Regions from separate parts of the Homo sapiens genome. Here region 2 is linked to region 1. The links come from fine-mapping of genetic effects on gene expression. Tissue or cell type: sun-exposed skin. Region 1 holds a variant in brackets; the other region holds the start of a gene. All regions are shown on one strand. Distances are from middle to middle.

Region 1 (5,041 bases):
CAAAAGTCCCCATGCAACAGCAGAAATTTCACCTTGAGGGGTGCAAAGGGAAATGCACCATTTGCACGCCTCTGTGTTCTCACCCTAAAATAGGTGTCTGAGGAATGGAGCAATGCAGATTGAAAAAGATGCCTATATTTCTATGCCCCTCATGCTGAGACTACTGGAGGAGTCAGCATTCTGTTTTTGTTTCTCTCCCTCCAGAACTAATACATTATAACTCTGTTAGCAACCAATACAGCTATCTCATGACAGATCTCTCCAAGCCTGCTTCAGAGTAGATGGAGATGGAGCCCCCAAGGCTTCTCCAAGTGCCTGCTATGTGACTTAGCCCCTCATTCCCTGCCTAACAGGGTAAGACACACAAAAAATCTTAAGATACAGTGCCCACTCAGTAGCAACATATACTTTCCTCTGGAAGACCACCACACATGGGATAATCAGATGTTACAATACAATCAAATACTAATAGGTGATTCAAACTCTGAGTTAAGATTTCCGTTCAATTCAATAACAAATCCCAACCATTTGCTTTCTGATAGGCACTGTGTCATGCACTAAAGTTACAGCCACAATCAAGATATGGTGCCTATCCTCAAGTAGCTCATACTTGAAATGGCAACTGAAGTTGTCCAGAAAAGATTCCACTGGGCAAGCTCTAATCTGAGCCTTGTAAAGTGGTACATTTTGGATGTGCAGGTAAGGGGGCTAGGAATGAGATACTCCAAAACTCATACTTCCCGCCACTGTAAACAGAAACAGAACACAAACCCAAGAAAGAATCATGAGGAATTAAAACATCTTTTCTCAAGTCTTCAAAGGCATGCTTTACTGTACCAGCTTTAAAGTGGTGGTTTCTAGGGAAGGAAAGCCTCTTGGGTGGCTCTGTTTACCTCCACTAGTTTGTGCCCAGACACCAAGGGAGGGAAGAATGAGCTGTTACAGGCTCTGCCAGAAGACTGGCACATCTGGACTTCTAGGAGTTGGGGTGAGCACCAAGCCACAGTCACCTCTTTGCCCTTCAACCTGGAAAACCACCATCCAGTCACCTGTATGTCCTCTAGTCCACACTGCTGCCACTATGTTAGCTCTGGTATTTCCCAGCTTTGTCCTTAAATAAGTTACCTCCCCAGGTTTTGGTTCCCTCATCTACAAAATAAGGATAAATTATTATACTGCTTCATGGGAATGTGTTAAGAATTAAAAGTGATGCTTATAAAGTGCTTAGCATAATACATGGCATGTAGTCAATGTTCGACAAACAGGAACTAACATTATTATTACCTCTTTTAAAAAATCCAATTGTTCCTAATCCATTCTTTTTTTTTTTTTTTTTTCTGAGACGGAGTCTTGTTCTATCACCCAGGCTGGAGTACAGTAGCACAATCTCAGCTAACTGCAACCTCCATTTCCCAGCTCAGCCTCCCAAGAGGCTAGGACTACAGGTACACATCGCCATGCCTAATGTTTGTGTTTTTTGTAGAGACAGGGTTTTGCCATGTTGCCCAGGCTGGTTTCATGTGATCCACCTGCCTCAGCCTCCCAAAGTGCTACAAGAAATTCGTTTCCGAAAAACCAATGTAAGAAATCTATAAACAAAACGTACATTTGTTTATTGCTTCATAGTTGATAAAATGCTTTCACATCCCTGACATCATTCTGACAACTTACAAAGCTAAATCCAATAAGAATTATTATATCTATTTGACAGATGCAAAATCTGAGACTCAGAGAAGTAAAAGCAGCTGTCCAAAGATCAAGCCGCAGTGTAGTCTCTTGATTCTTCCAAGTCCTTCCCCTATTTGTTGCTCCCTCGTGCAGACCCGATCGTCAAATGATATGCATGCTCCCCACGTAATTAATAAGAAATCTTATCAGTGGGGACCACAGTGAAATAAAACCACAGAGAAGAAACTAAAAAATTACTGAATCACCTTTTTGAAGCGAGGGACTTTCCTCAGCCAGTCTTGGGAGTGCTGCTTACAGTGACATAAACATTTTGTTCAGCAGCCATGAGCAACCTTCCCTAGCCAGCTGGGTCTCCTGAAGTGGCACATGGGGAGGCCCCTGTGGGAGCCACAGTAGCCTCCCAGCACCTGTGAGTGGGACCCCACTCTACCTCCTACTTTGCTTTCCACTTATACTTCTGGTTCCTCTGAAAAGCCAGAGGCCTCACAATTAATTATTGTAGCAGTTGCTCCTTTTGCAAAGATATCTCTGATTCCTTCCATTTCTGCTACCCATAGCCAGTCTCCCTGAGTCTTGGATGACACCAGACATCCAGTAAAAAGAGCTCTCTTCCAAACAGTAATCTTCAGATGCAGGAGGTGGTGGCCACCACTGGCAGTGTCCCCACAGACAGAACCACTATATCACAAAGGGAATTATGTAACCATACAAAGATTAACCTCCCCCTTCTAGTCACAATTCACCAGTCCCTCTAACAACTGGCTGGGGATCTTGGGGGTCTAAAGGCTGCATCCCAAGGGAATGGTGTGGTTTTGCTTCCCTGAAAGTGACAAGAGGAATGTTTTCTCTTTATCTACCTCAAGAGGTGCCTACCAGGCAAGGCCTCAGTGGTTCAGGACATTTCAGGCAAAGAAGAGGCTGGAGCCAGA[C/T]GGCAGTCATCTTTGGGGAAGATGGGGAACTACAGGGCTCGCTCCTAAGGCAGCTATCCAATATAAAGTACCCAATGGAGCCTGGCAAAGAGAGGCTTAATTCAGGTCAGTGTAAACAACAAGGAGGTCCCATTGGTCAGAAAGCTTCCAAGCAAGAAGCTCCAAGGAACAGCAACCCTTGGAATCAAGCAGATGGCCTTATATAGGGGAATGAGCCACTCAGAACAAAGTCCCAAACAGTGACTAAGGATCCAGGACACTGAGTCCAATCCCTGCGCAATGGGACTGGCAAAACCCATACCCTGCTCAGCATAGGGTTTTTGTGCAAGTAGAACTGGGAGAGAGATCTAGCTGTCTGGATGTGGCCAAAGCAGGAGGGAGAAAGTGTTTAGGAAAGGCAAAAGGGAGGTCAGGGCTCATCACATCCCAGAGCCAGGCCACCAACAGCCCAACAAATTCCAGGCCTAAACCCAAGGGCAGGGGAGGTAAAGGGAGGGTGGAAAAGTGCTTCAGGGACAGCTGCTCAACAGAGCCAAGGAAGGTGGATAATGACACTACGCAAAGAAAAACTCAACAGAGAAAGTAAGAAGAGGCATGTTTGTAAGACTAGGTGGCAGGAATACCAAGATGATTATAAGACATCATCCTTGTTAGCTACTGAGAAATAGGTAGTAGTTGTCCAAGGAGCCAAAGGCAAAGGGAAGCAGAACCAGCATGCAAAGACCCAGAAGTATCAAAAAACCTGATGCATTATTGGTTAGGCATAGATAAACTGCAGAATACAGGGAGAGACTGGTAGAAGGTGAGGCTGGGTATTTTGACAGAAGCTGGATCAAGAAGAGCTTCTTATGAAAATCCAGAGATTTTAGACTTCATTCAGGATAGGAAGCCGTCAGAAAGTAAGGGCACACATTCATCCCTATAACAATCATTTGCTCAGCACCTGCTGTGTGCTGGGTGCTATGCAAGGTGATGAGGAGACAGTGGTGAACAAGGCCAACAACAGTCCTGGAGCTTACACTCTAATGACTCCATTCTTTGCACACTGGCTGTGCAGTTTATGGGTTGTGTGTTTCTCCTACCCATTGAGAATAGAGGCTGGGTCTTAATCTCCACTATATCTTAAATGCTTGGCTAAGTTTCTTTCACATAGAAAGTCGCTATCTAATAAGTGTGTATTATGGGAATAAATGTTTTCTGTATTTTCTAAGAGTCTAAAGAAAAAGAGCATAGTGCAATCAGATTTCTATTTCAGTACATCACTTTGGCAACTGGTTGTGGGCAACTGGGGTGAAACCAAACTAGAGACAAGGGCTTACCAACTAAGAAGCTGTCACTGTATTAGGCACTAGATAATGAGGGTCCAAACTAGAAGAATAGTGGTAGAAATGGAGGTAGTTTTAGTCCCCTGACAAGCCAATTCATGTGCAGCTCATTCAGCCTTCACAGACCTAGAATTGCTCTCAGCAGACCACTGAAGCCTCCTTTAAATCCTCATTGCCTTCTGTTTTCACTCTAAACCTCTGCATGATTTACTTTCACCCTGGGACAGCCCAGTTTTCAAGGTCAAATGCAACAAAAGACAGCTGGTCAGCTCCAGGGTGACCCTGGGCAAAGCCTGGGGCGGTTGTACCTCTGCAGAGCATGGTAGTAACATATGAGGTCACTAGGACTTTAAATCAGTGCTGATGAATTTCCTCTGCTGCTGAAAAAAAAGCAAGCCAGAGATATCCTTGCTGTCAATGCTGATGGCTGCCTCAACAGGAATTCATACTCTGATGCTGCAGGGAGATTGGCTGGATTATCAAGCATCTAGGCTCCACTATCTTCACTGGTTCTAGTTCTAAGAAGTGTTTACAAGATCCATGGTGGTTCTAGGTAGCTCCTAAGATCTCAAGCGATTAAGACAAAACAGCAGCTCTGACCCATACTTTTAACAAAACCTGTACCCGAAGCAGCTCATATGTCATGAACCTAAAAAACAACTTTTTTTGTACATGTACAGCACATTACAGTCTACAAACGCCCTTATATATACTATCTGCATTTTTCTATAACTCTATGGGCAAGATAAAGCAGATATTATTATGTGCACTTTGTGAATGAGAAAGCTAAGGCTTGGAAAGGTTTTGAATGACCCAAAATCATACAGATTGTACAAACAGAACAGAAAGTCCAACCCAAGTCACGCTCTACGTTTAAGACTCTGTCCATCAGACCTCCAACTCCAGCCAGCACGAGTTTACTAGAAGCATGAATTAACTTACTGTCCCAATACTTACTGAGGCTATTCCTTTCCTTGTTGCTTTTCCTGATATGACACTGAGGCAGAGCCTGTAAAGGGCCACCAAGTCTCCATTAGACCTGACTACCATCCAGTGATACCCAAAGCCAGAGCCCAGGGTCACACCCTGATGAGAACT
Region 2 (5,041 bases), 97 kb after region 1:
GGCTCATGCCTGTAATCCCAGCACATTGGAAAGCCAAAGTGGGTGGATCACTTGAGGTCAGGAGTTGAAGACCAGCCTGGCCAACATGGTGAAACCCCGTCTCTACTAAAAATACAAAAATTAGCCTGGCATGATGACACATGCATGTAATCCCAGCTACTCGGGAGGCTGAGGCATGAAAATCGTTTGAACTCAGGAGGCAGAGGTTGCAGGGAGCAAGATCGTGTCGCTGCACTCTGGCAGGGCAGTAGAGTGAGACTCCGTCTCAAAAAACAAAAACAAAAACAAACAAACAACAACAACAACAAAAACTATTATGAAGAGCCTGGGTAACATAGTGAGATGCTGTATGAACAACAACAACAAAAAAAATTGTTTAAGTTAGCTGGGCATAGTGGCTTTCACCTGCAGTCCCAGCTACTAGGGAGGCTGAGGCAGGAGGCTTGCTTGAGCTCAGGAGTTCTAGGCTGCAGTGATCCATGATCGCGCCACTGCAGTCCAGCCTGGGTGACAGAGTGAAACCCTGTCTCTTAAAAAAAAAAAAAAGAGAATTTCCTTCAATTTTCAAAACTGGTCCCTAAGCTTTCCTGGAAGTTGCTATTGTGAGAAGGTGCTAACAGTCATGGCTCCATCCCTTTAGGGTTCATAATTATTTTCTTTACCTGATTCTGGAATGGATCAAGTTTTGTGCCAACATCTCCTTAGTTGGTGTGGGGAGAGGAGGGTGAAGGATACATTAATTGAAATTTATGATATGCAAGGCATTTATATTATTTTGATGTATTTAAAGACATACATTATTATATTAAGATGTAAGTGGCTCACACCTGTAATTCCCAGCACTTTAGGAGGCCGAGGCGGGCGAATCATGAGGTCAAGAGAGCGAGACCATCCTGGCCAACATGGTGAAACCCCGTCTCTACTAAAAATACAAAAATTGGCTGGGTGTGGTGGCGGGCGCCTGTAGTCCCAGCTACTTGGGAGGCTGAGGTAGGAGAATGGCTTGAACCTGGGAGGCGGAGGTTGCAGTGAGCCAGGATCACGCCACTGCACTCCAGCCCAGGTGACAGAGCAAGACTGCGTCTCAAAAAAAAAGATGTGGAAACACTCCTCCTTGTTTAAGTCATGGTAAAAATGAAGGTTCTCAAAAGGAACTTTTGCTAAGAAACTAGAAAACTAGAAGAAAATTCTCACCCTCTTTTTTGTTCCCCCCCACCCCAAAATAATCTTACAGGACATAGATCTTTGATCGTTACTAAAACTTGGCCATAACTTTGCTTGGTTGACAGAGCTTATGAGGCATCAGTTATTTTTTCCTCCAGTTAACCCCAAACCGCTTTCAGAACCTCAATATTTTGCCTTGTTACTTTTTCCTTTCCCCTTTCAACCTACCCACCTCCTCCTACTCTTTCAGGAAAACAAAACAAAACAAAACAAAACAAAAAAACACAATACTAACCTGGTAAGATAAAATAGGTCACACTTGTTTGAATCAGTGTCTCATCAATACATAAGCATTTTATTTTTAAAGCAACTCTCTGATCAGCTAATACCAACTGGTACCCTTTTCTCATGAAAGGTAGAGTCATTTTCCTACTGCGTCTCCTGGCCTAAGGATGCACTGTGTAGGACATACCACTGGAAATAAGGAAAAAATACCAAGAAGACACTCAGAAGATCAACAGACCCGACCCTTGGGAGAGGTCAAGGCGTATACAATGACCAACTCTTTTCTTCCCTTAGTTTAATCAGTAAAACAAGTGTAATTTATATTTACCGGATCTAGGAAGCACAAAGCACTACTGAATTAGTCTTTTGAAAGCATGGATATTGTTTGAAGACAGAACTAAAAACTGCAAGGAGGATTCTTTCAGAGGGAGGGAATCCTCTACGGAGTCTTGATTTTCTTTTCTAAATAAGGAGTGGGAATGAGGATGAAAGTGTAGATGAAATACAAAAGAAAACACTATCCATGAAAAACAGTATTCTAGGAAATAAAGGCACTGGCAGAGAAAATGGAAATAGAAGACACATCCCTATCTGGAGATAATCTAATAATACATGTACAAATGGACCTCAGTGATAACATATGTAAACCACAGATTATAACTTTACAGAAACATTGATATTAGAATTCCACCCCCCCCTTTTTTTTTTAACTAACAGGCACAAACTTTTCCTGGGTTAGCAAGTTCAACTCTAGTCTTTTTCCTGCTAAGTCAAGTAGAGTGGGACATCAATGAGAAGTTCATTTTAAACCTCTGAAAATCAAACGCCAAAGGCAAGGTTGAGTTCACACGGACTCTTAACTGACTCTAAACCGCAAGGACCTAGTCCTCTTTGTCAATTGCGACCTTGCAAAAAGCTCTCAGTCGTCTGTTGGGATGGTGGTGATGATGGTAAGTGCGATGCTGAGAAGCTTTGCATCTGAGACTCCTTCTTCTTCGGGAGGCTGTTTAAGGGAAGCTTCCCTTCATGGGAGGAGAAGAAAAAAAGAGACATTGCCCTTTGATGGAGAGGAAGGGAAGGAAGAAAAATCTTACTGTTTCTGCCAACATAGAGGAGTCACACAGACTTGGGTTGGACTCTGGACCCCACTTTCCTCATCTGGGGACTCAAGAAATATCTACCAGAGTTTGTCATGAAGGTGAAATCTCATGATGGCTAAAGAGTCTGTTCCTGGCACACAGGAGGCACTCAGAAAGTGTCTTTTCTCCCCAAACAGCGTGGGAGGAAAGAATAGTAAGCGTTTATAGGGGTACAACTCCGACCTCCCAAATCTGACTCCGCAAGACCACCAATTTACCTCCCGGGAGGGTGACTCTGCCCAGCCCCGCGCCTGCCAAGCGCCGCCAAAGCCTCGACGGCGGTCCCCGGTGCCCGCGGGAAGGGCCGCCTCACTCACCTCGGGCGCCAGTAGGTGCAGGCTGGGTCGGCCGGCGGCCCCGCGCTGCCTGTCTCTTATAGAAGCGGGCGTCGGAGCAGCTGGGCAGCGGCCAATGAGAAGGGAGGGCCGGCGGGTGTGGGGCGTGGGCAGTCGCGTCCGCCTGCTCCCAGAGACTTGCACGCCTCAATCTCTGCGTGTATCTGACTGGTGTTTTAATTAAGTGAATGTTAGGCCGTCCTTAACCACACAAGTCTGACTAACACTGAACAATCCAGAGTTGGACATTCTCTCCAAACCAAGATAACGCCTATTATCGACACAATGACCTGCTATAGGACTGCAGTGCTTCTCGCCTGTTGGAGACCAAAGCAAGAATCCCCCCACCTCCCACACCTCTCTGTGCTTCTGGGCTATTTAATAGCCCAGTCCTGACTTATTATTCTCTTGGTGCTTTCCCCCATTCCTTGAGGCAGAGCAACAGTTAGTTGAACTTTTTAGAAGAGAAGTGTTCAGTGCCCTTCTAATTAAAAAAAAATTTTAAGCTGCAAGCAGAGAAGCATTCTATATTAGCAAAAAATCATATTACGTGCTATTGTGAACAACAGGACATAGAGGCAAAAAATTTGGAATAGGTATTTACTGGTTGAGTAGTCAGTCGATTAGCTCCTTATCCCAAAGGACTGTACACATAACGAAGTATATTATAGGACATTCTTTCCTCCAATGTTTGAAAAGTAAGATTTATTGATGTATAATTAACATACAGTAATATTCACCCTGTGAGGTGTACAATTCTGAGTTTTGACAAACATGTATAGTTGTGTAACCACCAAACGATCAAAATATAGAACATTTCTATCACTGCGAGAAATTTCCCTTGTCTAAAGTCTCTCACCTCACACCCAGCCCCTGGCAGCCACTGATCTGATTTCTGTCTCCACAGTTTTGCCTTCTCTGGAATGTCACAGAAATGAAATCATGAAATATGTACAGATTTTTGGCTCCTGGCACTTAACATAATGCTTTTGAGTTTCATGCAGGTATTAGTGATTTGTTCCTTTTCTTTCCTGTTTTCTTTTTTGCTGAGTATGGATGTACTTTAAAGCTCAGGATCTTTACAGCTTTTCTATGCATTTTTCTTTTATCTGTATAATGCTTCTATGAGGTACATATTATTTGTATTTTACAGATACGGAAATTGAAGCACAGGGGTGGCTCTAAGACGTTATTCTGGCACAGGCTAGTAAGTACCATCAATAATCAAGCAAAAGTGTCTGAGTTTAAATCCAGTGCTCTTACTTCAATGCCATAAAAAATACTGGTCAGGGAGAGACCTTTCAGAACCAAGCTGAGGTCAAAGATGTCTTTCCTAAACTGAAAGCCTTTCCTTGTAGATCTGGAACACGATAAGGATGCCCAATTTCACCACTATTATTCAACATAGTACTGGAAGTTCTAGCTAGAGCAATCAGACAAGAGAAGAAATAAAGGGCATCCAAACTGGAAAGGAAGAAGTCAAATTATCCTTGTTTGCAGATGATATGATCCTATATTTGGAAAAACCTAAAGACTCCACCAAAAAACTATTTGAACTGATTAAATAATTCACTAATGTTGCAGGATACAAAATCAACATACAAAAATCAATAGCGTTTCTGTATGCCAATGGTGAACAGTATGAAAAAGAAATTAATCCCATTTACAATAGCCACAAATAAAATAAGTACCTAGGAATTAACCAAAGGAGTGAAAGATCTCTACAATGAAAACTATAAAATACTCATGAAAGAAATTAAAGAGGACACCAAAAGAACAGAAGGCTATTCCAAGTTCATGGATCGGAAGAATCCTTATTGTTCAAATGTCCATGCTACCCAAAGCAATCTACAGATTCAAGGCAATCCCTATCAAAATACCAAAGACTTTCCTTACAGAAATAGAAAAAACAACCCTAAAATTTATATGGAATCACAAAAGACCCAGAACAGCCAAAGCTATCCTGAGCAAAAAGCACAAAACTGGAGGAATCACATTACCTGACTTCAAATTATACTGCAGAGCTACAGTAACCAAAACAGCATGGTTCTGGCATAAAAACAGACACATAGACCAATGGAACAAAATAGAGAACCCAGAAACGGATCCACACACCTA

Evidence for each region. PIP is the estimated chance that this variant, and not a neighbour inherited with it, causes the effect.
Region 2: TPH1 starts here. The variant in region 1 is fine-mapped to the expression of TPH1 in sun-exposed skin (GTEx, PIP above 0.99). The same link has a PIP of 0.9 or more in cerebellum, lung, sigmoid colon, skeletal muscle, subcutaneous fat and tibial nerve.

The regions. Positions count from the first base shown.
Region 1 is chr11:17,946,632-17,951,672 of GRCh38, forward strand. The region is part of intron 9 of SERGEF (secretion regulating guanine nucleotide exchange factor); the gene reads right to left. Among named protein-coding and RNA genes, the nearest start is that of SERGEF, 64 kb to the right of the region's middle. The variant C/T (reference allele first, on the strand shown) is at 2,619.
Region 2 is chr11:18,043,336-18,048,376 of GRCh38, forward strand. TPH1 (tryptophan hydroxylase 1) reads right to left here and starts at 2,934. Exons shown (of 11, transcript NM_004179.3): 1 at 2,906-2,934.